2 separate regions of the Homo sapiens genome follow, and region 2 is linked to region 1. The links come from fine-mapping of genetic effects on gene expression. A gene starts in region 1. The other region holds a variant in brackets. All regions are shown on one strand. Distances are from middle to middle. Region 1 holds the start of PCSK1N (proprotein convertase subtilisin/kexin type 1 inhibitor). Region 2 overlaps CACNA1F (calcium voltage-gated channel subunit alpha1 F).

Evidence for each region. PIP is the estimated chance that this variant, and not a neighbour inherited with it, causes the effect. A credible set is the group of variants that fine-mapping cannot tell apart.
Region 2: its variant is the best candidate, but not a certain one, in a credible set for the expression of PCSK1N in breast (GTEx, PIP 0.54).

What each region holds. Positions count from the first base shown.
Region 1 is chrX:48,826,441-48,841,658 of GRCh38, forward strand. PCSK1N (proprotein convertase subtilisin/kexin type 1 inhibitor) reads right to left here and starts at 9,170. Exons shown (of 3, transcript NM_013271.5): 1 at 8,979-9,170; 2 at 5,429-5,901; 3 at 4,656-5,015. The coding sequence starts at 9,092. The coding sequence ends at 4,820. It overlaps ERAS (ES cell expressed Ras), which reads left to right and starts at 73. Exons shown (of 2, transcript NM_181532.3): 1 at 73-109; 2 at 2,641-3,429. The coding sequence starts at 2,684. The coding sequence ends at 3,385. RefSeq lists an enhancer at 4,492-4,992.
Region 2 is chrX:49,203,312-49,217,756 of GRCh38, forward strand. CACNA1F (calcium voltage-gated channel subunit alpha1 F) reads right to left here. Exons shown (of 48, transcript NM_001256789.3): 26 at 14,444-14,445; 27 at 13,071-13,217; 28 at 12,031-12,232; 29 at 11,775-11,933; 30 at 10,848-10,958; 31 at 10,508-10,591; 32 at 9,663-9,683; 33 at 9,356-9,484; 34 at 8,932-8,997; 35 at 8,587-8,678; 36 at 8,011-8,170; 37 at 7,654-7,781; 38 at 7,279-7,375; 39 at 6,990-7,092; 9 more. The coding sequence ends at 1,826. Among named protein-coding and RNA genes, the nearest start is that of SYP, 10 kb to the left of the region's middle. RefSeq lists an enhancer at 5,961-7,160. The variant A/C (reference allele first, on the strand shown) is at 11,135.

The DNA of each region.
Region 1 (15,218 bases):
CTGCGCATGTCCACTCCCCCAACCGCCGCCGGGGTGCCCCGGGGAGCAGCGTCGCCCCCCGCCAGGCCTGTCAGAGCGTCCCAGCGCGCCCGCCTCCCCACGGACACAGGTGAGCGAGGCGCCGGTGCCCCTGGCCCTGCCAGGCCTGGGGGTATCCCCGCGCCGGCTTTGGGGGATCGTCCCCCAAGCGCCAAGCCTTCTCCCGGGCGAGCGGCCCCTCACTCGGCCGGCCGGGAGGGGTGTCGGCGCTTGGCTGGAAGCGGGGCCGCCTCACCCGGAGTCGGGATGGGTCTTGACAGGATGCCCGGGCGACGCTGCTCACACCGAGCCCGAAGTGGAGTCCTGGTTTCGGGGACCCTTCCGCACTCCGAGCTTTGCACCTCACCCGGCCTCGTCCGGGAAAGCACGACCTGGCGAGGCCGCCCTAACCCCAGGTCCCGGCCCCTTAGCGCGCCAGCCTTGGTGAGCTGGGCGAAGCCCCCCAACCTGGTCCCAGCGGCTCTGAGCGCGCGGCCACGGGGACCCGCCGGGGGCTCCGCGCCACTTGAGAGGACCGAGCCCCCAATCTCCGGCGCCTCCCGCGGGCTGAGGCCCCGGGCCAGTGCCCTCGGCACGTGCCTCTGCGCCTCGGGCTCCTCCCGGGAGCGGAGCCTTGGGGACCAGGGCCGCGGCCTCCCTGCGCGTCGCGGGGACTGGGCGAGTGTGGCCCCGTCCCGCCAGGCACCTGGGGTGGAAGCTGCGCTCCGCCACTCGGCCAGGCCCCGGGCTTTTCCTTCCTCACCGTCGGCGCCCCCAGACTCCAGCCGCTCAGACCCCGACTTAAGAGGCAGCCTCGACCCCGCCTCTGCCTTCTGACCCATCCCTAAAGATGGCCGGGCACCCCTACAGGACCCCCAGAAGCCGACCTCTCCCTCCACGTGCGCCGCCGCCTCGCCCCTCCCCGCAGTCCTCCAGGTCTTCTTCCTGTCCCCAACCGTCGGGGACCCCCAAGCTCCGTCCTCCGCTTCCTGCTCTCTTTATCCCGCCCCCGCTCCTTCTGGGCCAACGCCGCCAGTGACTATTCCCAGGGATCCCTCAGAGCTGAGGACGCCGCGGCCGCATCCCCATTTGGGACCTTGCCCCGACTCCGACCTCCGGATCTCCAGCTCCACCAAACCTCGAAGCCACCATCCGCCCCCAAACTGCCGCTGCGCCAGGCTTTCGGAGGGGAGTCGTGGCAACAGCCATTAGGATGCACTAAGCAGGGCACTTCCTGAGCCCAAGGACACCGAGGGGCATTCACTGAGTGAATGGGGATGTGCTGCTAATAACTAACACTAATTGACCACCTGCCGTGTGCCCATCCTCTTCGAACATGCAACTTCCTTGTTCCTTATCTTGTTACTGTCTCTTTCTCTCTGCCAGAATCCAATCCTCACAAGGGCAGGGACTGGGGTCTGTTTTGTTAACTGCCATATCACAATGCCTGGCACGAAGGAAGATTCTTGAATTAATGAATGGAGATTAAATTATAATTTAAAAGCCTGGCATGAACTGAGCACCTTCTGCATGCTTATCACCCGCTACTGACATATAGTTCACTTTTTTTTTTTTTTTTTTTTTGAGACGGAGTTTTGCTCTTATCTCCCAGGCTGGAGTGCAAGTGGTGTGATCTCAGCTCACTGCAACCTCCGCCTCCCGGGTTCAAGCGATTCTTCTGCCTCAGCCTCCCGAGTAGCTGGGATTACAGGCGTCCACCACCACTCCTGGCTAATTTTTTTGTGTTTTTATTAGAGACAGGGTTTCGCAATGTTGGGCAGGCTGGTCTCGAACTCCTGACCTCAGGTGATCCACCCGACTCGGCCTCCAAAGTGCTGGGATTACAGGCGTGAGCCATTGTGCCCCGCCCCCTTTTTAACCTAGTTTGTTGTCTCTCACCCCGACCAGAATATAACCTTCATGAGGGCTACAGTTTGTTGTCTATTTATTGCCCAACTCCATGTCCTTGCCACACAGTAGGTTCCCAATAAATGTATGTTGAATAATTAATAAAGACTACATTCTAATGATAATGGCTAACAGACCACGTGATTTACATATTTATTTGGTTTATTATATTATCTGCCTCTGCCTTTTAGAACATAAACCTTCTGGGGGTGGGAATGTTGGGTCCCTACTGTCTGGCAGGCACTGTGCTGGGCTAGGGTTCAATGGTGACCAAAACCGGCAAAATCCTGCCCTCCCTCTGTCATGGGGAGGAACTGCTAATGGGCATGGGGATTCTTTTCTGGGTGAGGAAAATGTTCTAAAATTTACTTATGGTGATAGTTGCACAACTTCGTGAATATGCTAAAACCCGTTAAATTGGACACTAGCTGGCTGAACTTGATGGGATGTAAATTACATCTCAATAAAGCTGTTTGGGAAATCCAGCCTTCACAGTTGTTGATTCGCGTGAGGAGGGAAGGAGAGATGGGGGGACGTGGGACAGGGAGAAAACAACATAAATCATATATATATAGCATGCAAATTGGAAGGTGATCAGCACACAATAGGCATTCAATAAATGTTGAAATAATGACACCCCACTGTCTCCTTGCCCTCAAATGGTCTCCCCTAACGTATCCCCTGTTGTCTTGCTTCTTCTCTTCCCACTTGCAGAGCCTGCTGCCCACGTCTCTTCCCTGAGCTGCCTGCTGGGGTCATGGAGCTGCCAACAAAGCCTGGCACCTTCGACCTGGGCCTGGCCACATGGAGCCCTTCCTTCCAGGGGGAAACCCACCGGGCTCAGGCACGCCGCAGGGATGTTGGCAGGCAGCTGCCTGAGTACAAGGCTGTGGTGGTGGGCGCCAGTGGCGTGGGCAAGAGTGCGCTGACCATCCAGCTGAACCACCAGTGCTTCGTGGAGGACCACGACCCCACCATCCAGGATTCCTACTGGAAGGAGTTGACCCTGGACAGTGGGGACTGCATTCTGAATGTGCTGGACACAGCAGGGCAGGCCATCCATAGGGCCCTGCGTGACCAGTGCCTGGCTGTCTGTGATGGTGTGCTGGGCGTCTTCGCTCTCGATGACCCCTCGTCTCTGATCCAGCTGCAGCAGATATGGGCCACCTGGGGCCCTCACCCCGCCCAGCCCCTTGTCCTCGTGGGCAACAAGTGTGACCTTGTGACCACTGCTGGAGATGCTCATGCCGCTGCTGCAGCCCTCGCACACAGCTGGGGGGCCCACTTCGTGGAGACCTCGGCCAAAACACGGCAAGGCGTGGAGGAGGCCTTTTCCCTGCTGGTCCATGAGATCCAGAGGGTCCAGGAGGCCATGGCGAAGGAGCCCATGGCAAGGTCCTGTAGGGAGAAGACCCGGCACCAGAAGGCCACCTGCCACTGTGGCTGCTCTGTGGCCTGAAGGTCTTGGCCAAGAAATGTAGACCTTTCCCCAGGCCAGGGTGATTGTTCATTTGACATGAGACCCCTGAGGCAACTAGCTTTGAGGGACACATCAGGTATACTAGGGAAAGATGGACATCTCTCTTGTTTTCACTTGGTGAGGGGCTTTTTGGTAACATGGGAGTGCCTAATGTTGCTTTTGTTATGTCAAGTTGAAAGATTTTGTGCAAAATTAAATAAATGGTGTTTTGGGTTTCAAAGCTGCCTCCATGCCGAGTGTTGTGTGGGTGGGAGTGAGACTGGGTAGAATGTTACTTGAGTTGTGAGAATTCTTTCATTCAAGAAATTCAGGGGGAGCCCACTGTGTGCTAGGCTCCGCTTTATATATAAGGGAGGTAGAGGCAAACAAGACACTTAAAAATCCTTGCCCTTATAGATATGGCATCAGGCTAGATAGTGATAAAGGCTACGTGTTAAAGGCAGGTGAAGGAATAGGGTGACAGGTCCAGGAAAGCCTTCTTGAGAGTAGGTGACATCTGGACAAAAACCTGAAGATATCCAGAGGCAGAGGGACTAGCCAGTGCAAAGACCATGGCCACAAATCAGCTGCCACCACAGCAACCCTCAGTATATCCAGGGCCTGGAGCAAGAGTACAGGTAGGCCTCTACACTACATAACTAAATATGTAAACGTTCAGACATTACGAATCAAGCTTTACAAAGTAAATGAAATACACCCTATCCTACTTTGGCAAATACACTTTATTAGTGACCTGGATACCCAGGCTCCAATTTCTCAGCCTTCTCAGAGTTCCCTGCCAGAATGTGCCTGTCTGCCAAAGAGTGTGCCTGTACTGGGGCCTCCCGACCCTCAGTGCCCTCTCCCTTTCTCTCCGCTCTCTCCTTTTCTCTTCCCCACATCAGGAGGTGTTCATGTGTGCCTGCGACATCCCAGCCAGCACCTCAAGCTCTACTCACGTGCCCCACAAAGCCACCCCTTGGCCCTCAGGAGGATGGTCCCTTGGAAGATGATGGTGCAGGCCCTGAAAGTGGCCTCAAAGCCTGGGATCCCCATACCCAAGTGAGGCCTAAAAGGGGGACACAAGATCCGCGATTGTCCATGTGGATGTCTTCCCCTCCACCCCTAGGAGAGACATAGACTGAGCAGGTGATTGCTCTAAAGTGCAGGACCCAGGGTAGAGTCTCCTCTCTCCTGGTCTAAGGGCAACCACCACCGCGGGGAACCACCAGCCCCTAGAAACTGCCACTCACACAGACAAGCACAGAGCTGCTTCAGATCATGTTTATTGTGGGGCCAGGGGGTAGGGATCCTCGGGTGAGAGGGCTGGCTGGCCGGGGTAAGTTGCTCTGGACGTGCTGGCGGGGAGCAGTCCTGGTGGCGGGATGGCGGGGGCACTTCTGGGTCCCAGGGTGCACGGGATCCGGGCAGTGCTCAGGGTGGCAAGAGGCGGCGTGCAGGCACCTGGGGCGCCGGGGTCTCTAGGCGTTTCACACGCAGCAGCGCCCCCAGCACGCCCTCAGGGGGCAGCTCAGAGCCCACATCGTGGTCGGCGGCACGGCGGAGGCGGCGCGGGGCTGCCACCCCCTCGGAGTCCGCGCTTCCCGCAAGAATCCGTCCCAGCAAGTACCTGCAGGGCCGAGCGCAAAGCAGTGAGGCGGTGTCCGCGGTGGGGCGTTCCCCCGCCCCACGCTCGGGGCCCAGAACGCAGGATCCACAACCACATACTGCCTGGGGACACGGTTCCCTCCCCAAGAAGGCGTCCTCAGCCCACTGCTTTCAGTAGACAGCCGTCATCGCCTTTCATCCCAGAAAACTGTGGCTTCCCCGCCTCCCTCTCCCCTTCCCAGGACCTGGGGTCCACTTCCCCCACTGAGTCAGCCAGGCATCCTTGCCTGGACTCCCTGGATCCAGGACCTCACTCCCTCTTAGGCCCCAGGACTTAGGGGTTCGCACTCCACGGGGTAAGCAGGCTTCCCAGTTCCTCGCCCTCGTCCTCTCCGGACGCAGGCGCCCGACCCCTCCCCACCCCCTGCCGGGCACCTCAACAGCTCGGGGTCCACGTCGGGTGTCTCGTCGCCTGCCTCCTCAGCATCCGGGCCCGCGGGGCCGTCGTCGTAGACCGGGGGCCGGGGTCGGAGCGCCGCGGCGGGGACGGGCGCGGGGACAAGCTGGGCTGCTAGGGCGGCAGGGTCAAGGCGGGCGCGGAGCAGAGCGCGAGCGAGCTGCGCTGCAGGCGCGTCGGGGTCGTCGTCCAGGCCCAGAGCCGGATCAGAGTTGCGGGGGGCGCCCCAGACGCGCAGCAGCTGCGCCAGGACGCGCGCCTGCTGATCCTCAGCCTCCTGCGCCTCGGCCCGCGCCCGCTCCTGACGTTCGGCCTCCAGCAGATGCGCCAGCGCCCGCGCCAGCTCCTGCACCGCCCCCGCCGCCTCACCTCGGGGCACTGACCGCCGGAAGCGGCGAGGAGCGCCAGTCTCAGCCAAGGGCGGAGACGCTGCGCTTAGGCCGCGGGGCTCCTGCGGGAAAATGAGGTGGGGGAAAAGAGTTTGTCAGCGTCCGTCGAGACAGGGACCCCCAGCCCGGGAAGCTTCGTAGGCCTCAAACATCCCAGATGCCACCAAAAGCACCGTGACCATCCAAATATACCCGGACACCCCTAAGGCCACTGGAAACCACCAAATATCTCCAGACGCACTTAAGACCACCAAAGATCCCCAGACACCCCCCACCCCCACCCCACAGCGCGCCAGTGATCCCTTGGTGACTCTCATAATTCCTCCCTCCCCACCCCCACTCCTGGAGACCGAGTTTCTTCATAAGAGTAGTGATGGTAGATATGACAGTTATAGATTTTTCCATATTTAATATTGTGGACAATAGGAACTATATGAATAAACTTGTTCATATATCATTTGGCATGTGTACAAGTTCATCTGTAGAATAAATTACCCAATGACAAATTTTCAGTTCAAGCAGTTTTCAAACAATTTCCACAAGTTTAAAGAAATAAAAGAGGGTACCAATAATCTGAGCAAGGAATAAAAGATCATAAAAATGACTGTGAAGGTTTGGAAAAGAAACATACAGGCCACATATAAATATGTTTAAAAGGAGTGATGCCTGCAACACAAATAGTCAATGAAAGAGTAGTACACAGAAGATACAGAGAATTCCTAAAAAGTAGTAAGAGAAAAACAAACTCATACAGAAATAGAAAAAATACATGATCGCCTATTTCACAAAAATGATTACTAAACATATGAAAAATTGGGCCACGTGTAGTGGTTCATGCCTGTAATCCCAGCACTTTGGGAGGCCAAGGCAGGAAGATCGCTTGAGGCCAGGAGTTTGAGACCAGCCTGGTCAAAATGGCGAGACCCTGTCTCTACAAAAAATAAAACCAAAAAAAATGAGCGGGGCACAAGCCCATAGTCCCAGCTACTTGGGAAGATGAGGTGGGAGGATCACCTGAGTCCAGAAGCTCAAGGTTGCAGTGAGCCCAGATCGCACCACTGCACTCCAGCGTGCATGACAGAGGAAGACCCTGTCTCTAACAAACATAAAATAAAATTAAAAACCTCATTAGTAATCAGGGGAAAGCAAATTAAAATGCCAGGGAGATACTATGCATAATATAACCAAAAGATTGACCCAAATCAAAAAGTCTGATAATATGAAGTGTTGATATGAATGCAGAAAAATGGGAACTCTCATACTATGCTGGTGAGAATTAAACTGGCAAAGTAATTTTGCAGAGCGGTTTGACAATATCTAAAAAGATGCACATATCCTATGACCCACTCCTGGGATGTCACTCCCCAGAGCAGCTTTGGCACATACGCTACTGGTCACAAGTTCGTGAAAGATGACAGCAGCACTGTTCGTAATAGCATAAAAGGGCGGGGGAGAAAGAAAAGCCTGGAAACAGTCCAATGTCCACTGACAAATTGAGAATACATATATAAATCATGATGTCCTCATAGGATGTAATATTATGCAGCAATAAAAATAAATGAATTACAGCCACATGCATCAACTTGGATGAATCTCGTGACCAGAATAGAGCCAAGGGAAAAAAAAACGTCAAGTTCCAGAATTTCACTGCAGACTGCCTGAGACTACTAGACACCCTGAGGACTTCCTAGTGACCCCTAGTGACTACGAGGAACCAGTCACCCAGTATGATTCCGTTTCAATGATGTTCAAAAGCAGGAAAAACTAAACAATGGATTTTTTTTGAGAGCTACACATATGTGATAAGCTACAAACAAAAGTAAGGGATCAATGGACAGAAAATACAGAATAAGGACTGTGTGGGGACAGGGGCTGCCATGGCGAGGGGCACGCAGGGGCTTCTAACTCTTGGTCAGGCTCTATTTATTAAGCTGAGTGACTGCTACACGAGAGAGTTATTTTGTCATCATTCTTTACATTGTACATATATATTAAACACATTGTTACACGGATATAAGGTAACAGTTTTTTTTAATTCCCATCTTTGATGCAGACAGTATTGAAGAGCTAGAGGAGGATGCCTCTCCAAGTGCCCTTGCTGGCGCCCACCACTCCTCAGTCACCCCGGGGTATCACACTCACCAGCAATCACAGCCTCACACACACTCATGAGGACTGACAGGCCTGGAGATGTCACATATACAGCCCAACACTGCCACAGCCACATGCAAGGACCTGCACACGTTCACATCCGCAGCTGCTCCTGCAGTTACAATCGCCAAGCCACCCAGGTGCAAGGACATGCACCATCCTTAAAGACACAATGCAGCAGAGAGACATCATGGCTCCTCTCCTCAGGATGACACAGCTCCACAAAGAAACGGAGAGAAACAGTCTCAGGAACACGCAAACGAAATCCCAGGCACTTGGTCCAACAGAACCACTATGGAATGTGCACACGGAGATGCGAAGACCATTCCCTCTCAAACACAAACGAAATCACACACACACACACACACACACACACACACACACACACACAGAGAGAGAGAGACAGAGAGAGAGAGAGAGAGACACGCCCATAGGCCAAGCCAACACACATAATAAGGATTCACAAATATCCACACGGTGTCACTGAGAAAACAATCGGACGCACAAAAGAATCGCGCACAGAAGTATCCCGGTATCACACACACTACACACCCAGACGCACCACGGCACCTTTCTAGGACACTTGGAAGCGCTCAAACCAAAGAACACACACTTTCAAGGACACGACACCTCCACACCGCTCTCCTCACATCACACGCACACACACTGATGCGCGCGCGCCCTTTCTTAAAGCGCCTTAGTGCCGTGGACAGCGTCACAGGCACCGGGCACGGAGAGGTGGGCAGGGCACGGTTACCGGCGGCGCCCCGGACAACGCCACCCGCACAGGCAGAGACCAAGTCAGGTCTCAGGTGTGCCGGCGTGGCCTGGGCGCGGACCGGCGGCCGGAGCCCGGGCCACCCTCGTCGATCTCTCCGCACGTCCCGGGAGCCGGCTCGGGCGGGGGTGAGGCGGCGCAGCCCCAACCCCAACCCTCGCCGGTGGCATCCTCCCCCAACCCCCACCCCTCGCCGGACTGGGGTCGCACCTTTACCGGCCGCGCGCAGAGCGCGGGGGGCGGCCGAAACAGGCCGAGCAGCAGCAGCACCAAAAGGCCGACGCCCCCGGCCCGCGGCCCCCAGAGCAGCGGCGACCCCGCCATGCTGCCCCAGCGAGCCGGGCTCCGGACGGGCGGACTGGCTGGCAAGTGCGCAGTGCCGGGGCGAGCTGGCGAGGCTGCGGCGCTCTGCGGCTGCGCACGCCCGGAACCAGGCCCCCCCCCCCCCGCCCCCACCCCACCCACCCGACCGACGCAGGCGCAGCCTGGGGAGCTGGCAGCCCCACCAGACCTCCCGTCGCCATGGAGATGCCCAAAGGGCAAGGTGGAGAGCTGGCGGTTGCCATGGCAGTCGGAGGGCAGTTGCTGGGGCAACCGACCTTACTGTTACCTTAGTAGACAGGAAAACAGGCAAGAAAAATTGACTCAGTGGAGTGGAATGGGGGTCTGGTCCTCATCTCTCTTCCTGGGGGAGGAGATGGACTTTAGTTTGTTCATTAGATAAATAGTTAATGGATCACCCGCAGTGGGCCCGGCCCGCGCCAGGGAGATGGGTTCAATCTAGGTGATGTGACCATGGACAGCTCAGTTGGCCATTCTAAGGCTCAGGCTCTCAGCGGCGTAAAGGGGTTACTACTGACAGCCTCCCTCAAAGTGACCTTGGAGGTTTAGAATGACATTCAGTAGGAGCTCCATAAATGCTCCTTTCCATCCTCTCCTTGTCTCTTTGTGTTTTTTTTTTTCTGACAGTGTCTCGCTGTGTCCTCCAGGCTGGAGGACAGTGGCCGGATCTCAGCTCACTGCAATCTCCACCTCCAGGGTTCAACCAATTCTCATGCCTCAGCCTGCCAAGTAGCTGGGACTACAGGTGCCCACCACCACGCCTGGCTAATTTTTGTATTTTTGTAGAGATGGGGTTTCGTCATGTTGCCAGGTTGGTCTCCAACTTCTGAGCTCAAGCAATCGGCCCTCCTCGGCCTCCCAAAGTGCTGGGATTACAGGCGTTGAGCCACCATGCCTGGCCCCAGCCCAATACTTTCATCTCTCCATGGCTCTCTGTGTTTATCTTTCTGCCCTTATGTGCCCACAGCTCTCTCTGTGTCTTCCTCTCCCCATATGTCTCTCCTTGTCTATGACTTTCTCTCCTTTCATCTCTCCAACCGCTGTCTTGTCTCTGTCTTTATTTTACTGTCTATATCTACTTGTTTTCCATAGATAGATATATACATAGATACATATATGCATAGACTTTACCCATATATTGTTCCAGAAATAAGTTCAAGCCACTAAAATGACATATCAAAGGAAACAAGATCTTGAAAAAATGTATGTGTATCCATAGGGGGAAAAATGTTGGGGAGGAAATGTCATCAATGGTTATCTCTGGGGAGGTAACTAATGGTTTGTTACTTTCTCCTTTATACTTTTCTGTTGTCTGAAAAAAAAAAATTACAATAGGCCAGGCGCGGTGGCTCATGCTCGTAATCCCAGCACTTTGGGAGGCCGAAGTGGGTGTATCACCTGAGGTCAGGAGTTTGAGACCAGCCTGGCCAACATGGTGAAACCCCATCTCTACTGAAAATACAAAAATTAGCCAGGCATGGTGACACGCGCCTGTAATCTCAGCTACTCAGGAGGCTGAGGAGGAGGAGAACTGCTTGAACCTGAGAGGCAGAGGTTGCAGTGAGCTGAGATGGTGCCACTGCATTCCAGCCTGGGCGACAGAGCAAGACTCCGTCTCAAAAACAAAAAAAGATCATCTGAATAAATGAAGACACAATACATGTTCCTGGATGAGGCAATTTCATTTTATAAAGATGTCAAGTCTATCCAAACTAATATATAATTTCTATGTAATTTCAATTTAAACCCCAGCTGAATATTTTAAAGAAAATCAATTAAATGTACTTTTTATTTTGTTTTATTTTTAATCCTACTCCTTCTGTAATAAAATGTGTAATAAAATTTGTTTTGGTTTGTTTATTTGTGTTTTGAGACAGGGTCTCACTCTGTCACCCAGGCTGGAATGCAGTGGTGAAATCACGGCTCACTGCAACCTCCACTTCCCAGGCTCAAGCAATCCTCCCACCTCAGCCTTCCGACTTGCTGGGACTACAGGTGTTCCCCACCATGCCCAGCTAATTTTTGCATTTTTCTGTAGAGATGGGTTTCACCATGTTGCCCAGGCTGCTCTTGAACTCCTGGGTTCAAGTGATCCACCCACCTTGGCCTCCCAAAGTGCTGGGATTACAGGCATGAGCCACCACACCTGGCCATATTTTTAAATGTATATAAGAGTCCATGCAAAAATTTGTACACAAATGTTCAAAGCAGCATTATTTATAATAGCAAAAAGTGGAAACAACCCAAATGTTCATCAATAGATGAACAGATAAGTAAAATGAGGTTTCTCCATATCATTGAATATTATTCAGCCATAAAAAGGAATGAAGTGAGGCCGGGTGTGGTGCTGTAATCCCAGCACTTTGGGAGGCCGAGGCAGGCGGATTACTTGAGGCCAGAAGTTCGAGACCAGCCTAGCCAACATGGCGAAACTCCATCTCTACTAAAAATATAAAAATTAGCAGGGCGTGGTGGTGCATGCCTGTAATCTCAGCTACTCAGGAGAATCGCTGGAACCTGGGAGGTATGGGTTGCAGTGAGCAGAGATCGCACCACTGCACTCCTGAGCAACAGGGAGAGACTCCGTCTCAAAAAAAAAAAATCTCATGTATCCCATAAATATACACACCATGTACTTATAAAAATTAAAGATTAAGGGGCCGGGCATGGTGGCTCACGCCTGTAATCCCACCACTTTGGGAGGCTGAGGCAGGTGGATCACGAGGTCAAGAGATCCAGACTATCCTGGCCAACATGGTGAAACCTCGTCTCTACTAAAAATACAAAAATTAGCTGGCATGGCAGCAGGCGCCTGTAATCCCAGCTACTCGGGAGGCTGAAGCAGGAGAATCGCTTGAGCCCGGGAGGCGGAGGTTGTAGTTAGCCGAGATCGCGCCACTGCACTCCAGCCGGGCGACAGAGCAAGACTCTGTCTCAAAAAAAGGAATTAAAGATTAAAAACATTTGATATGCATGGTTGATTATCCTAGGTAAAAAGAATTACAGATAAATACAAATATGTATACATGAAAATGGATATGAGTTTTATTTGTTTATTGAAAAGTTATAGGGGCGAGGACAAAAGACTACAAAAATTAAGAAATAAAAATAAAAAGTTATTACAGCTTATTAATGGTAATATTATAATTAATACATACATAATTTTATTTATCATACTAAGTTAATTGTATTTTGAAACTGTGGAAAATTTTTTAATTTATTGACTATGTGTAGATTGACTGACTTCGAGACAGAGTCTCGCTTTGTCACCAAGGCTGGAGTGCTGTGGTGCCATCTCAGCTCACTGCAACCTACTCCCCTTGTGTTCAAGTGATTTTCATGCCTCAGCCTCCCGAGCAGCTGGGACTACAGGTGCACGCCACCACATCTGGCTAATTTTTGTATTTTTTGTAGAGATGGGGTTTTTGCCATGTTGCCCAGGCTGGTCTGAAACTCCTGACCTCAAGTGATCTGCCTGCCTCAGCCTCCCAAAATGCTGGGATTACAGGTGTGAGTCACCATGCCAGGCCTGTATCTGTAGATTTATATTTCCATGTATAACTAACTACATACATATACTTATATTAATAAATTCTCTACTGGAAATTATTACATGAATAATGTACAAAAGATGTAAAATTAGAATTTGTGTCCTTTTACTATGAAATAACTAAATTATTGTTTTCCTAGTTCAGTGGAGGTTTCTTTTGTCATCAAAAATAATCTATCTCTCTGTGCTTTTCGACATATTCTTAAATCTTTTTTTGTTGTTGTTGTTGTTGTTGTTTGAGACAGAGTTTCACTCTGTTGCCCAGTATGGAGTGCAGTGGCATGATCTCGGCTCAATGCAAACTCTGCCTCCCGGGTTCAAGCGATTCTCCTGCCTCAGCCTCCCGAGTAGCTGGGATTACAGGCGTGTGCCACCATGACCAGCTAATGTCTGTATTTTTAGTAGAGATGGGGTTTTGCTATGTTGGCCAGGCTGGTCTCCAACTCCTGACCTCAAGCGATCCGCCCGCCTCAGCCTCCCAAAGTGCTGGGATCATAAGCGTGAGCCACCGCGCCCGGCCACTTAAACCATTTTTTAAAAGAGTCCTTCTTTACCTTTTTTTTTTTTTGAGACGGTCTCACTCCGTCACCCGGGCTGGAGTGCAGTGGCGCGATCTGGGCTCAATGCAACCTACGCCTCCTGGGTTCAAGAAAGTCTCCTGCCCCAGCCTCCCCAGTAGCTGGGACTACAGGCACGTGCCACCACGCCCAGCTAATTTTGGTACTTTTAGTAGAGATGAGGTTTCGTCATGTTGGCCAGGCTGGTCTCCAACTCCTGGGCTCAAGTCATCTATCTGCTGGCCTCAGCCTCCTAAAGTGCTAAGATTACAGGCGTGGGCCACTACGCCCAGTAAGTACTTATTTTTGAAAAAAGTTTCTAATAAACGTTGTTTATTGCTTTATGATTCTGCAGTAATTATAAATATTTCTTGTGCTTAGGTATTTATGAAATATTTTGACTCCTCTAACAACTCTTTGTAATTCTGATTTTCCCAAATTCAGAATAAAATTGGTTAGATGTCTTTTCTATATAAACTATTTTGGGGCTTATTAAAATGATTATTAGGGCTGGGCATGGTGGCTCACGCCTGTAATCTCAGCACTCTGGGAGACTAAGGTGGGAGCATTGTTTGGGCCCCAGAGGTCAAGGCTGCAGTGAGCCATAATTACGCCACTGCACCCCAGCCTGGGAGACAGAGCAAGACTGTCTCAAAAACAAATTAAATTAAATTAAATTAAATGGTTATTAGGTAATCTAAAGATTTCTCCTTCACCTTATAAAAGGAAGGGCAAGAGAAGTAATTAGGTTTATCTAGAATGCTTCACATGTGAATTAATTCAAAATTCTTATAAGTGCTCTTTGGCTTATTAAACAGATTTTTAAAAAACTGACAAATCAAAAAGAAAACTTATCTTTCTATGCTAATTCTGCAAAAGTAAAATATGTTCTCATAAGTGTATTTTAATGATTATAGACTTTTTGTGTTTAAAAGAACCATAATTATGACACAATCAAGCACAAATCCTGGTATAAGAACTGTCTACAAAAAGATGTGTTTCCAGGATTCTAGATGCCCGCTTCCCTTTTTGTTGATGATATGTCTAAACAAGTATCAGGACTATTGCCTCAATTACCTGGGACTCTTTGGAGGCCTGTTATTTACTTTAGTTTTCGATTAGATCCAGGAGCCAAGGCGTAGCCTATGAAACATTATTGCTTCCCCTTCACACATCACTAGCCATTGCTGCAACACTCTGCCCCTCCTGAATGACCTGGGCGATGAAAGCCCCTTGTTGCTTACCTCTGCTGGGAAACCAGCCGCACCCTGCGCACACTTGCTAGAGACCCCCTCAGCTCTCCTGATTTAATTGTGTTGTTGGCAGTTCATACTCAAAAAGAAACACTAGTTGGGACTCGGTGGCTCATGTCTGTAATCTCAGCGTTTTGGGAGGCTAAAGCCAGAGGATCGCTTGAGGCCAGCAGTTCAAGACCAGCCTGGGCAACATGGTGAGACTCCATCTCCACAAAAAATAAAAGTGAAAACTAATACGAACTAAAGGAATTCCACTTTTTAAAAACTTTTATTATTATTATTATTATTATTGAGATAATGTCTGGCTGTGTCACCCAGGCTGGAGTGCAGTGGCAGTGATCTCTGCTCACTACAACCTCCGCCTCCAGGGTTCAAGTGATTCTTGTGACTAAGCCTCCCAAGAAGCTGGGACCACAGGCTCACGCCACCATGCCCAGCTAATTTTTGTATTTTTAGTAGAGATGGGGTTTCACCATGTTGCCCAGACTGGTCTCGAATTCCTAAGCTCGAGCAATCCACCTGCCTTGGCCTCCCAAAGTGCTGGGATTACAGGAGTGAGCCACCACACACAGCCCTTTTTTTTTTTTTTTTTACTTTTATATACCCTAGGAGTAGGTAGAATTTCACTTCTGAGTATACAGCAAAAAGAATTGAAAGCAGGAACACAAAGAGATATTTATACACCCATGTTCAGAGCAGCATTATTCACAATGGCCAAAATGTAGAAGCAACTCATGTTCCTTGA
Region 2 (14,445 bases), 380 kb after region 1:
CGCCTCAGCCTCCCAAAGTGCTGAGATGACAGGCATGAGTCACCATGCCCAGCTCAATACCTGTTTTTTTAAACATGAAAATTCACACATATATGTAATGGATACTTCCCTGTTGTTGCCTTATTGGGGAAGCAGTACACAGGAGGGGTTAAAAGCATGGATCTTGGCATCAAACTGCTTGAATTTGAATGCCACCTCTGATACTTCTTGTTTGACCCTGGACAGGTAAGATGGTTTAAAATGATACCTATAAGGTTGTTGCACTGATTCAACGAGATGATCACTGTAATGCAGTTAGCACAGGGCCCAATAAATGGTTCATTTTACCTCCTACACATCTCTGGAATCCACTCACTTCTCACCATCTCCTCTGCCACCTCCTCTGGCTAAGGCGACCATCATTCCTGCCAATTTTAGCATCTCCAGTCTCTTCCCCCTCCCTTCTGTTTTCAGCACAGCCGTCAGAACATCTATTTAAAATGCAATGTTAACTATGTCACTACCCTACTCAAATCCCTCCCATGGCTCCCCACTGCTTATAGGAAAAATCCCAGAGTTTGGGACCTGGCATTCAAGGTTCCACCTGATCTGGCCTCAGTGGCTTCTCCCACCTCATCCCTCAACAGTCTCCCTTCACTCTCTGTGCCCTGCCCATGACTTGCTGTTCTCACCTAACTCCAGCCCAACCACTTTAAGCCTTTGTTTCAAGGCCTAATGTAACTCAATCTTCTCAGTCCTAGTCTCCAATTCTGGCTTCCCTCAAATTTCAGTCCTGGCTTGATTGGCGCAGATTATACAAATGAGACACCCCTGTTCTGGGAGCTGGGAAGAGTTCCTCCCCGACTGGTGGTCTCATCCTGCACCACTCCCAATGCTACCTTCAATTCCTCTGGAGTGGGGCTGACTCCCACTTTGGATGAGACCTGTCCCGTGTTTCAACCAGTTCAGTTTGCCCCGAGAGAAACCCAGAGCCGGTGCCTGGCACATAGTAAATGCCTGATAAGCCTTCAGTGAGCGAATGTAACCCCAAAGGCTGGGTGAAGAGTAAAGCTGGGGCAAGAAGCAGAGAGGACCTCTGGGATCTGTGTGGGATAAGAGTAGGTTACTGTTAGGTGGTCTCAGGAAAGCCAGGTGGGCCCTGAGTGGGTTCCCCAGGGCTGGGAGCCCTGACCTTTGCTGTCACCTATGTTGTCTACTGATGGATTTAGGTTTTCTTTTCTTTCTCAGGCAGAAAGTGGGAGATGGGAGACAGAGCGATCTCAATTTAGCCACCCTAAAATTCCTGTTGCCGTCAGAGGACCCCTCTGCCTAAGATGCATCACATACCAGGCCGATTCCAACCTCCAGGCCTCTCCCCTGGCAGGATTCTTCTCTGGGTTTCCTTGTCCTTTCCTTCTCATCCGTCTACCCTTCCTAGTTTGACCTGGCTGAGCCCTGGTGAAATCTCTGCCTCTCTTCCTCTCTGGGTCCAAGCACCCCTCACACCCGCTCTCTCCCCTTTCCTCCATCTCTGTCCAGTGCCCTCCCCCTCCCCCCTCCTCCACTCTGCCTCCAGCTTTTTTTGGCTGCTGTCTCTTCCTCCTCCTCCTCCTCCTCCCTCCTTCCCTGACGCTGAATAATCAGGCCTGGCTGTCCTGGTTTCTGGAAATACCCGTGTGTGGGCAGTGGCTCAGGGCTAGAACAGGGGATGGATGGATGGGGGCCCCTGGGCAGCCCCAGACCCCCAGTGCAAAGACAACAAAATCCAGGGATGTGGTCCATGCCTGCCTCCTGCTGGGGAGGGGAGGGCAGGAGGTTTATTGAGCAGTTGGGGAGGGGTGGGAATTCAGAGGGCGTGGACGCAGGCCATCTCGTCTCCCAAGTCCTCCTCATCGAAGCGGGAGAGGATGGACTCCTCGTCGCTATAGAGAGAGCTGGTTCCCTGTGCCAGCAGGTCACTGGCAGCATTGTCCATCTCATCCAGCGTCAGGCGACACGCATCTGCAATCTCCTGCTTGGCCAGGGCCACGAAACGTGGGTCTCGAGCAAAGAGGCCCAGACCCTCTGAGATAAGCACCTGGGGGCACAGGTGGGATCAGTGTTGACGGACGGCACAGTGTGCACAGAAGGTTCAGTGTGGATAAATGACGTGCCCATGAGGGCATGTAGGGAAGTCAGTGGGGGACAGGGGTGAGCAGAGGTCGTAGGGCAAAGGGATATCTACATGCACAACACAGGACCTGGGGACTCCTTTCCGTCCTCCTCCAGTACCCACCTCCTCCCCTTCTCCCCCATCCGTCTTGTCTATATGCCCTCTGGACTCACAGCCTCCACCAAGCTGTCGGCACTGCCCCTCTTCCCATGGCTGGGGTCCGAGTGGGTTCCAGGCACGTGCAGACAGGTGAAGGTGCGCAGTGGGCCACTGGATCTGCCGAGGTACCCCTCCCCCGCTGCGCCCTCTTCCACCAACAACAGCGGGGCATACAGGAGCCGACCCCGCTGAGGTGGTGTTGCCCAGGAACCCTGAGCCAGAATAAACATCAGAGGGGCAGGGATGGATGAGTAGGGTATGAGGGTCTAGGACTCACCGCTGTGCCTACTTCTTTCCCTCAGTATACAACTGGAGTGAAATTGAATGGGTATAAGTCAGGCTTGAGTTTATTTATGTAAGAGTGCAGGAGGCCTGGGTTTAAATGTCAGCTCTGCCACTTACTAGCTGCATGATCTGGGGTAAACCTCTCAGGACCTCAGTTTCCTCACAAGTACAGTGAGCATTGTGTGCATTCATTCATATGTGTCCTGTTCTTCAGAAGGCTCTGAGGCCAGGCGCGGTGGCTTATGCCTGTAATCCCAGCACTTTGGGAGGCTGAGACAGGCGGATCACCTGAGGTCAGGGGTTTGAGACCAGCCCGGCCAACATGGTGAAACCCCATCTCTACTAAAAATGCAAAAATTAGCCAGGCATGGTGGTGAGCACCTGTAATCCCAGCTACTTGGGAGGCTGAGGCAGGAGAATTGCTTGGACCCGGGAGGCAGGGGTTACAGTGAGCCAAGATCTCAACACTGTACTCCAGCCTGGGCAGCAGAGCAAAACTCTGTCTCAAAAAAAAAAAAAAAAAAAAAAAAAAAGGGCCTGATATGTGCTGTGTTTGAGAAATTCAGCCTAGGCTGCCCCCATCTCTCCAGACCCCAGACCCCAGCACCACCTCCACAGCCTCACCTGAGCCCTATTGGGCCCTGAATTTCGCCCACGATGATAGGTGCCTGGGATGGGTAAATCCTCACAACTGCCCTGGCGCTGCAGACACTGGATGGTGAAGGAGGGCTTCCGACCTGGGGGTGGGTGGGGCACCAGGGGCAAATAGCAATGTCAGTGCTTCCCCAGATCTCTGTCCTGCAGGCCCGTGGGGGCCCCTTGGATCCATCCCTGCTCTCACCTGCAGGTGTGGGGGGCAGCAGACGGCGGCGTGGTACCAGGTGCCCATCCATGTATCTCTGAGCTCTGTGAGGTGGCAAAAGGACTGAGCACGGGGGAGTCCCTGCCTGCTCATCTAGGTAGGAAAGCCTGTGTGGGTGGGAGGGCCAGGGGTGAACTTGGGTCTGGGCCTGGACCTGGGCCTGGGAGATGGGGCACAAACAGTCCTCCCCGACCCAGTTCCCACCCCTCCTCCACCCCAGCTCATGGGTTCATCCCATGTGGCATGGCCAGTGTACCGATCAGGGACTTCCTCATCCTCATCTTGCTTGTTTTGCCCTTTGGTTCCCTTGGGCTGAGAATTTCCTTCTTCTGGGATGGTGAAAATGAGAGCCCCAGAGCCTCTCCTGGGGAAAGGGAGGCACGTTAGGCAGACCAGATCCCTCAATATGTGGCCCTGGACCCCTGGTTCCTCTCATCCCATGCCCCAACCCTTACAGAAACACTGGGCTTTTGGATTTTTTTGTTGAGGACAAGTCACATAAAATTAACCATTAACCATTTTAAAGTGACCATGGGCTTTTGTTTAATAGATGTTCATCTAATTAGGACTGAAAGTTTCAAAAAAATCAAAGTTGACCTGTAGAGAGACACCTTGAACACAAAACTGGGCATGTATTAGGAGTGGGGGGAGCCTGTAAAAGCTAGGCACTTTATTTTTTTATTTCTATTTTTTATTTTCTGAGACGAGGTCTTACTCTGTCACTTAGGCTGGAGTGCAGCGGCATGATCTCAGCTCACTGCAGCCTCAACCTCCCAGGCTCAATTTATCCTCCCACCTCAGCCTCCCAAGTAGCTGGGACTACAGGCATGTGCCACCATGCTCGGCTATTTTTTTATTTTTTGTATGGACGGGGTCTCATTATGTTGTGCAGGCTGGTCTTGTACTCCTGGGCTCAAGCGATCCTCCCACCTTGGCCTCCCAAAGTGCTGGGATTACGAGTGTGAGCCACCGTGCCTAGGCAAGCTAGACACTCTGAAATTTTTTTTTAAAATTTTTCTTTAATCTGCTTATGTATTGTCTAGCAGCTAAGTGTTTGACATGCATTACCTCATTTCATCCTTTCTTTATCCCTGTGAAGTAAGTGCTTTGTCATCCCCCTTAAACAGGTGAGGAAACTGAGGCTCATAGAAACGAAGTGACTAGGCAGGGCACGGTGGCTCAAGCTTGTAATCCCAGCACTTTGGGAGGCTGAGGTGGGCAGATCACCTGAGGTCAGGAGTTCGAAACCAGCCTGGCCAACATGGCAAAACCTCGTCTCTACTGAAAAAAAAAAAAAAAATTAGCCTGGCATTATGGCGCACGCCTGTAATCCCAGCTACTCGGGAGGCTCAGGCAGGAGAATCGCTTGAACCCGGGAGGCAGAGGTTGCAGTGAGCCGAAATTGTGCCACTGCACTCCAGCCTGGGAGACAGAGCGGGACTCTGTCTCAAAAAAAAAAAAAAAAAAAAAGTGATTAGCTCAAGGTCACTTAGCAAATGGCAGAGGCAGAATGTGAACTGAAACTCTTGGTTTCACACAATGTGCTTTTTGCATTAAACCTTTGTATTGCCTTTCTCATATGAATCTCTTATCACCCTCTATTCTTACCTGAGCCCTTGAAACACCTCCATTCTTCCCAAATTTCTGCTTGAAGGCCTCTAGGCCCTCCCTCCCACCCCCCTCAACTTCCTGCCTCCTGAATTGCCTCTATCCAGTGTCTAGTCCTTGCCTTCCCTCACAATCTACTTCCAGACACTTGATAATACCTGTGGGTGTTGGATCCAGCCTGGGGCACACTGGGCTGACTGGAGGTGGGAGTCCCCCTGTCATCATCACTGGGCCCAAAGGAGAGTGAATCTGGAAGTCTGTCCCCGACAGGCAGAGACACAGAAATCCCGGAGCCCCGGCGAGCTGAGGGCTGGGAGACCATCGTGGCCTGTGGAGAGTCACAGGACTGAGTGTTGCATGCACTTTGTGGCTAAGTCATTTGGTCATATAACATGTCTCCCCCACAGGTCCATGAATGTGGGCCTTGCCCTCCAACAGCAATGGTAAATGTCAAATAAATAAATACGTAAATAAATAAATAAATATTTGCGATAGGGTCTTGTCCTGTCACCAGGCGGGAGTGCAGTGGCATGATCACAGCTCACTGTGGCCTCATCCTCCCAGGTTCAAGCAATCCTCCTGCCTCAGCCTCCCAAGTAGCTGGGACTACAGGCTTGCACCACCACTCCTAGCTAATTTTTAAATTTTTTTGTAGAGAGGCGGTTTCACTATTTTGCCAGGACTGGTCTTGAACCCTAGGGTTCAAGCGATCCTTCCACCCTGGACTCCCAAAGTGCTGGGATTATAGGCATGAGCCACCACTCCCAGCCTCAAATAAATATTTTTCTATTGCAGAGGGGGCTTCTCTGGGGGAGCTTCTTCCCAGAAGCAGTGTCAAAATCACTCAGGGGATTGACGAAGTATTTTACAATCAAGTTCCTGGGAGAGTGAAAACTTGTCCCCACTTTGTTAGTTTCCAAGTCCTTTTCATCTTCCTCCTCCACTCCCTCCTGCCCCTCTTCTTCCTCCTCCTCTGTGTCACAGGTGAGGGCCTGCCGCATCTCAGGACCCAAGTCCTGCAGGCTCCGCAGACCAGCCTGTGGGGGTGGAGAAATAGGTAAGCAGGCAGCTCAGGGTCTGAACTTTCCCTCTGTTTCCCCTGCAGGCGGGTAGGGTGGGGGAAGGAGTCCTTCAGCCACCCTGGCCCTCCGTGAGGCCTGGGGCCTCAGTTTCCTTATCTGTGACATGGGTTTCACAAGATCAAAATGGGGGTCAGCCTCAGCCACAGCACTGCCACACGTGCCCATCCACACTAGGCCCTGCCCCGAAGACCTGAAGGGCGGAAGAGGTGCTAGGGGCGGCGTCGTTGCCTAGTAGCCCTTTTTCTTTCCTCCGCCGGAATTTGCGGAAATAGTCCTGGATCAGAAATGTGGCGTAGAATTTGCCCACGGTGACCTCCTCCTCTAGGGGCAAGGGAGAGAAGGCAAGATCACACAGGGGCCCTCTGACCCAGCCCACCTCGCCGCCTCTCTACCCACCAGCATGGACTTCCCCTCGCCCTCTGCCCAGCGCTGGTTTTGTGGTGGAGAGCGATCATCTGCCATTCAGGGGCTGGCGCGGGGAACTGGGGCGGGGATAGCTCACCGTCTGGTGGGGGGATGACCTCATCTAGCAGCTTCTGTTTCATCCGCTTCCAGATCTTTTTGATGACAATCCGCAGCTCCTGGTTGGCTTGCTCCAGGTTCCCTGCGTTGGAGGAGGATGTGGGGCATGAGCCAATAGGAAGAACCTCCACAGCTGCCCCCTCACTGTTGGGTGGGGGGAACTTCACAAGCTGCTACCGCAGATGCACACCGCCCCCATTGGACGGGGTGGGGGGAAACAGGCCTGGAGAATCCTGTCACCCATTCTGGGGTTCAGAGCTAGGAGTGGGGCCCATGATTCAATGAGTTTGCTCCTTGCACCCTCCCCAGGAACGATCCCACTCCTGCCCCTCCCCTACACCTTCTGTTTTGATCTTCAGGGATGTCCGGACCAGGGCAAAGAGTGTGGCGTTGAATGTCACCGTCCCATCTGAGTTGAGGGGCATGTTCATTGCCACAAGTCTCTGCAAACACGAGAGACATGAAACCCACTCTGGGAAAATGCCGGGTATGCAGGAACGAATGTCAAGGGGCAGAAACCTCTGAGGATGCGATCAAACACCCCTCCCCACCCAAGGCAGATCCCTTCCCACCCTTGCCATGTGATAGACAGTTCTCTCAGGAGCCTGGGGGTGGGCAGGTGCACAGACCTTGCAGGCCACTCGGTGTGGGCACAGCTTCCCAAATCCCAGAGGGGGCTGGATACGTCTCAGCAGGGCAACCACATCCAAGTGTTTGATGCGGCCCCTGGAGGAGTTGGGGAGGTACCACTGGATTGGCGATGCCCCCACTAGCCCTTTCTCAAGGCCCCACCAGCTCATCACTACCTCCTCCTACCAATACCCCAGAGCTTGCCAGGGAAGAACTGGAGGGCAGTCAGAGAGGGCAGAGGATGGGGCAGTGGAAACTTTGGGGCATCTATTGACTGGGTAATGAGATGCAGCAGTCGGAGGTTTGGGGGCTAGGGGACTGTGTAGGGCAATACATTGTCCCCTGGATTCTAGGTAAGGGTATAGAGGGCATACTTGGCCCCAGGGTCATATTCAGACCAGATCCTCTTGAATTCATCAAGGTGATGGGGGCCCAGGATGGACCAATCTCTGGTGAGATAATCAAAGTTGTCCATGATCACAGCCACAAAGAGATTTATGATCTGTGGGCCAGTGAGCAAGGGAGCAGTTAGGTGAAGGGCAGAACACTGTCATGGACGGATGGTGGGAGGCTGGGGCGGGCTTATATGGTCATGAGTCTCTGGGTTGATCTTGTCATCAGACCAGCCCTCTCACCCACTATGAAGATCTGGGCTGCCCACGTCACATCCCTGAGCCCCTCAGGGCCAGCCCCCGTGACGGTGGTGGTGGTTGTGAGGAAATGGTTCTCACCAGGAAGGCACAGAGCATGAAGAAGCTGATGAAATAGGCGATGGCAAAATTGCTACCACAGGTAAACTCTTCACCAGGGCCGAAGTCAGACTCAGGATCACACCGATTTCCGGGAAGGCTGGCAAGCATTATCTCCTGCCATGCCTCACCAGTGGCACACCTGGTGGGAGTCACACAGGGGTAGCATCCTGAAGGGGAGGCTATGAAGTCATGGTAAATGGAGTTGGGGGAGGACTGGGGAATGAGGAGATGACCTACTTCTCACCAGGGGCTACATCTGGCACAGATAACATTTCAATATTTTAACAGCCAGTGTGGCCATGTTGACGACAGTCATGTTTGCATCTTACAGATGAGGCACTGAGACCTGAGAAGGGGAGGCGTCTTACAGTCAGAAAGAAAATGGCTGAGGCTAGAATACTCTAACAGACTCCTCACATCATAGCCAGGAAACATCTCGGGCTGTATGGAGCCCCATGCTGCCATATTATTCCCATAGCTCAAGCAGTCTGGGGCTCAGAGAGGGTGGGTGGGCACCCACGGGCATAAGGTGGCAGGGGAGTGAGTAGATGTCACCTGAACAGAAGCAGCACAGCCTGTGGAAAGGTCTGGAAGTTGTTGTTTCGGTTTATCTGTGTGCCATCCTGAAGAGCCACCTTGCCGAACATCTGTGGACACATCAAGGCTGTGTCAGTGGGGTGAACCCATGCCCCACCCATTTCACACCTCCTAATACCTAAAGGAGCCTCATAACCCTGACAAACAGGGCATCACTGCTGATCTCATTTCACAGATGTGTAGATTGACCCAGGGCCGTCCAGCTTGTCTGTCTACCTGCCACCCCTACTTTGGGGCTATTCTTAACCCATCCCCTGCCAGCAGAGGAGTGCTTAAGGGATGCTTCCTAGGGTCCCCACTTGCCTGCATGCCAATGACGGCATAGATGAAGAATATCATTGCGATGAGAAGAGCCACATAGGGCAAGGCCTATAGGGATGGGGGAGGGGGGCAGAGAATAGATGCACAGGCTCAGGCAAAGAACTATAAGCCCCAGAATGCACTGCTTTCCCTGGCCTGGGCCTACTGGGAGATGCAGTCCATCTCCAAAGTGCCAAGGACTGTGGTGTCTCTCAAATGTGAACATAGTGTTAAGTAGATAGAGTAAGGTCAGTGAGACCAGAGGTGTGTTGGAAACTGAGAGCCCAGAAAAAAGAGAAAATTGGAATAATAATTTGGAAATGGGTATGGCATGTTGGGAGATGTAGTTCTGAGGGTGGTAAAGGGGCAGGCTGAGAAGTGTGAAATGGGGGCGAGGTATGGTCAAAGGGATGGGGTAGGGGATTACCTGGAAGGACTTGATGAATGTCCAGAGCAATGTGCGGATCCCTTCACCCTTACTGAGAAGCTTGACCAGCCGCATAACTCGGAAGAGGCGAAAGAAGGTAATGGAAATGCGGGAGCTGTCCTCAGAGCTCTGGGGTGAGGGGTGCAGTAGGGATGCTCAGTTTGCATTTACTCCAGCTATCTCCCTATCTCATGCTTTGGCCCTCCCAGTACCCAAATCACTCAGGCCCTAGGGTAATCTGGAGGGATGGAGGGACAGAGGGACATGGGAAAAGAAGCAGAGAGTCCCTGTTATTAGGGTGGGCTACCTCGCCAAGGTGGCCACCATTCTGGAGGGAGATATGGCCAAGAAAAAGGTGATACAGGAGATGATGACATCATAGGCCCAAATGAACAAGGTGAGATATGATGGAGCAGATATAGGGGGTGATGGTGGGGTCATTACACAGGGGACAATGGGAAAGTTTATATGGTAGTGGATTAGGATTAGGAAAAAGTGGGTAATGGGAATGGAAGGGAGAGGAGAGAGTAAAGGAGGTGATGGATCAGAGACATTGGAGCCAATAGAGGAAATGATGGAACCAGTGGTGTCATAGAGATGATGGAGATGAGAGAACCGATGGAGAAGCCAATGGAGAAGCCAGTGATGGAGATAGGGAACCAGCAGCGTTGTCAGTTGAGGTGACAGAACCATGTAGTACCCAATGGAGGTGATGGAGCCAATGATATAGTCAATGGTGATGACAGAGCCATGAAAGAGCCAGTGTCAGAGATGATGAAGTTGGTGGAGAAATGAAGCCAATGAAGTCATCAGAAAAGATGGAGCCAAAGCAGGAGCCAGTGAACATGACGGAGCCAATGGATGGGGGATGTAGAGGCAATGAAAGAGATAACAGAAATAACAGGAGAGGCATTTCAGGAGATGGTGGAGCCAGTAGATAGGTTACAAAATGGAATGAGAAAGCCAGTAGAGGGGGACTTTTGCTGAACCCAACAGGGACTCAGAAGAGATAGAGCTAGAATGAGGACTGAGTCTCCAGGAGTAGGGAGGATGTGCGTGGGAGCCACCCACCCACGTGAAAGGGAACCCCGGGATAGAGGTGAGGGAAGGTGTATAGGGCGAGAGTGGATTAGTGGAAAGGCCAGTTCTCACATTGACTTCAGTGACGGCAATATCCACTATGCTGCCCACCACAATAAGAGCGTCAAACGTGTTCCAGGCATCAGTGAAGTAATGCTGCAAGTAGGAGAAAAGCAGTGCCCTGTCTTCTCAAAGCTCGCAAGCCAGGGTAGGGGGCCAGTAGTAGTAGGGGGCGCCGGAGGGGGGCAGGGCTTCGCTTGGATCACACGATGGGCCTGCACCTGAGTCCCTCTCACTCCCTAGACTCACACTCCCTGGCTGCTGCCCGCATCGCCAACCCCAGAGCTCTGCAATGAGCTCCACTCCCAAGGAATTCATCCACTGGTGGGTGGGGCTAGAGAAGGGGGGCCACCTTGGGCTTGAAGGCGATGATTTTGAGCACCATCTCAATAGTGAAGAGGCCAGTGAAGACCATGTTGAGGATGTCCATGGCATAGTTGAAGGGAGCAGTCTGCTCATAGTGCTGCAGGAGAAAATCAGGTTGAGATGGAGCCTGAGGCAGAGATGCCGCCACACCCAACCAAATATTCCCTGGCCTGGGCTGAGACGAGTCTGGGGACTTGATTGCACTGTGTATTGGTCAAACCTCTTGCACTGTCTGCCTCCCATTATGGATACTGGAAAGTTTAGTTCTTGATT[A/C]CTAGCTTTTCTTGTAGTTAGGCAAGGCCAGGTTGACTAGTGAGACATAAACATAAATCTGCTGTTGGTTAGCAGCTTGTGTAAAAAAAATTTTGCTTTCCGATGAAAGGATCAAATAAGGAGAGGCCCCAGGTGCAGCTCTCCCTGCCTTGAGTGTGGTTTTGATGCCTGGAGCTGTGATCATGAAACAACAATCATGAAAATGAATGCCAACTTGCTAAGAATGGTGAAGCAGAAAGATAGAGCATGGGTCCCGGATGAACAATGAACAAACAGCCTACCTCTGCACTTCTCAATACATGAGGTAATTACCACAGTTCATTGACTCCAGGAGGCACATCTTTTTACATTTTAGAATCTCTGAAATTGGGGCGCATTTTATAACAAATGGCAACTTACAATGGCCACTGGCTACTTTTTTTTTTTTTTCCACATTCTTACATCTCCGAAATCAGAATGCAACTTACAAGTACTGGCCATAGACTTAAAGAAATGTGGCAAATGTCTTTATAGCTTAAGTTGCTGTTAGTTGGCAGGGGGTTTGTTATTTGCAGCCTTAAATGTTCCCAATGGTTCCCAAGGGATTATGTGGAGATAATAGGGTCAGGAGTCTGGCGGGGGTCAGGCAGGGATCTCAGACCTGCATGGCTAGGGCAACTGTGTTGAGCAGGATGAGCAGGAACATCAGGTACTCAAAGGCAGCAGAGTTCACAGTGGCCCACACACGATACTGATGCGGGTTCTTGGGGATGTAACGGCGGAGTGGCTGGGCCTTGAGGGCATATTCCACACATTGACGCTGCATACCAGGGCAGGGCATGAGTGAGCAGTGGGGTCCTGAGGCAAGGAGGGAAGGGTTGGTGACCATCCATAGGGGGTCAGGGGTCAGAGGTCACCTGGTTCTTGTCCAGCTCACAGTTTTGGTACTCCTGCTCGCCCTGGGCACGGAAAGTGATGATGACGAAGCCCACGAAGATGTTCATCATGAAGAACGCAATGATGATGATGTAGACAATGAAGAACACTGAGATCTCCACACGGTAATTATAGATGGGGCCGTGGTCCTCTGCATATGCATCGATGGCCTTGTATAGCAGTCTGTGGGAGCCAGAGGGGGGGTAGAGGTGGGGGCAGGTGAGGGGATATCCCAGCCCCCTCAGACCTGCCCCCAGTCTACTTATCACAGACACCCCAGAGTTTCCTGCCTGGCACCCCAAAGACCCCTAAATCTCCTGACCTAACCACCTGGGACCTCCATACATACTCTAAGAGACCTCTACCAGGCCCTCAAAGAGTCCAAATCCTCTGTCCCATGCCCTCAGAAACCCCCATAGAGTCCTCCAGAGAATCTCCATTCAGAACCTCAAAGACCCAGAAATCCCCTAAGTTTCCACAGACCTTCAAATCCCCTTCTCCAACCACTTGGAGACCCCCATGCGCCTCCCCAGAACTTCCACACAAGCCCCCAACGATCTGTAAATTTATCCCTGTCCCATCAACTTGAATCCCCACTCCATCTCCCCACAGAGCCCCACAATGAGTATCCCAAAGACCTGCACAGCTTTCTAGAAATCGCTGAATCCCTGCTTCATCTCTTCAGAGACCAATCCCAGTCCCCTCAGACCTCCACTCTGTCCCCCCAAACCATCTCCAATCCTTTCCAGGCTTCTATCTAGCTACCTAGTCCCTTAGAAACCGCTGTCCAATTCCTGGAGACCCCTCACTCAAGTCCCCAAAGAACCCCCACCCAGCTTCTGGGAACTCCACCTCTACAGTCCTCTGATACACCCACCACTCTCCAGAAAACCCTATCCAGTCTCGAGAGACCTTCGTCACATCCCCAAGGTACACTCCCACCCATTCCCAGGAGATCCCAACCCAATCCTGCAGAGACCCCTGCCTCATCCCCTGATAAACCCAGGGCCCTGTCCCTCACGCAGGCCAGCCTTCAAAGGTGGAGACAGTGAACAGGGCCATCATGGCTGAAAGGACATTGTCAAAGTTGAAATCACTGTTGACCCAGAGCCGCTCCCGGACCAGGGGCCGTGACACGTCTCCATCTGGGTATACCAGGAAGGAGCCCCTGTGGATGTGCAAACAGGTTAGATGGGTGAGGAGGGGTGAGGAACTGGGGAAAGGGTCTGGGGTCTCCAGCATGGAGGCAGCAGGACATAGTGGTGGAGCAATATGTTCTAGGTTCAAATCCTGTCCCTCCATGTCCTGGCTGGGTGACCTTGCGCATTTACCCTTTCTGTGCTTCTGTTTCCCCATTCTAAGAAATAAGGATAATAACAGAATCGATTTCCTGGCTTGTCACAAGGATTAATAAATGTCACAAGTCAATAAATGAGACTAGTGTCTGGCACATAGTTGGCATCATTTCATCATCACCATTATCATCCTCATCATCGCCCACCAGGAAAAAGTAAAACGAATAATAGCCAACGTTTATTAGCAGTAACTATATGCCAGGCACTGAACTAGATTTTCTTTTTCTTCTCTTCTTTTCTATTCTCTCTTTTTTTTTGAGACGGAGTCTTGAAAAAGACTCTGCCCAGGCTGGAGTGCAGTGGCATGATCTTGGCTCACTGCAACCTCCGCCTCCCGGGTTCAAGCGATTCTCCCTCCTCATCTTCCCGAGTAGCTGGGATTACAGGTGCACAACACCAAGCCCAGCTAATTTTTGTATTTTTAGTGGAGACGGGGTTTCACCATGCTGACTAGGCTGGTGTCGAACTCCCAACCTCAGGTGATCTGCCTGCCTTGGCCTCCCAAAGTGCTGGGATTACAGGCGTGAGCCACAGCGCCCGGCCCAAGCTAGGTTTTCTGTGTAGCAACTTTACATTGTACAAAGTACATTTTCCATGTAGTAGCTCATTTACTCTTCACAACAGCCTTGTGAGATAGGCACTGTTTAGCCCCGTTTTTCAGTTGAGTGAAATGGAACTGAGTAAGTTTAAGAAATGTACCTAAGTCTCATGAAGTGGATTTGAACCGTAATGTCTGACTTCACAGCCCAGGCTTTTAGCTACTACCCTCTACAGGAGTCTCAAGATGGAAGCTGGGGGCTCAGGGTGGGAATGGTGATTGCTAATGGGTCTGGAGTGGAATGTAGGTCACTTGGGGAATGCGGAGAGGGATTTGGGGGAGGTATCGGGGGGCCGCCGAAGACTTGGTGAGATCTGAGGGCCTCTGCAGTTCTTGGGACAATTCTGGGACTATATCTTTGGGCCTTGGTGAGATCTAGAGGCTCTAAAGTCTTTGGGAGGGGTCCTGAGCTCCGTGGACGGCAGGGTCTTGGGCACTCACTT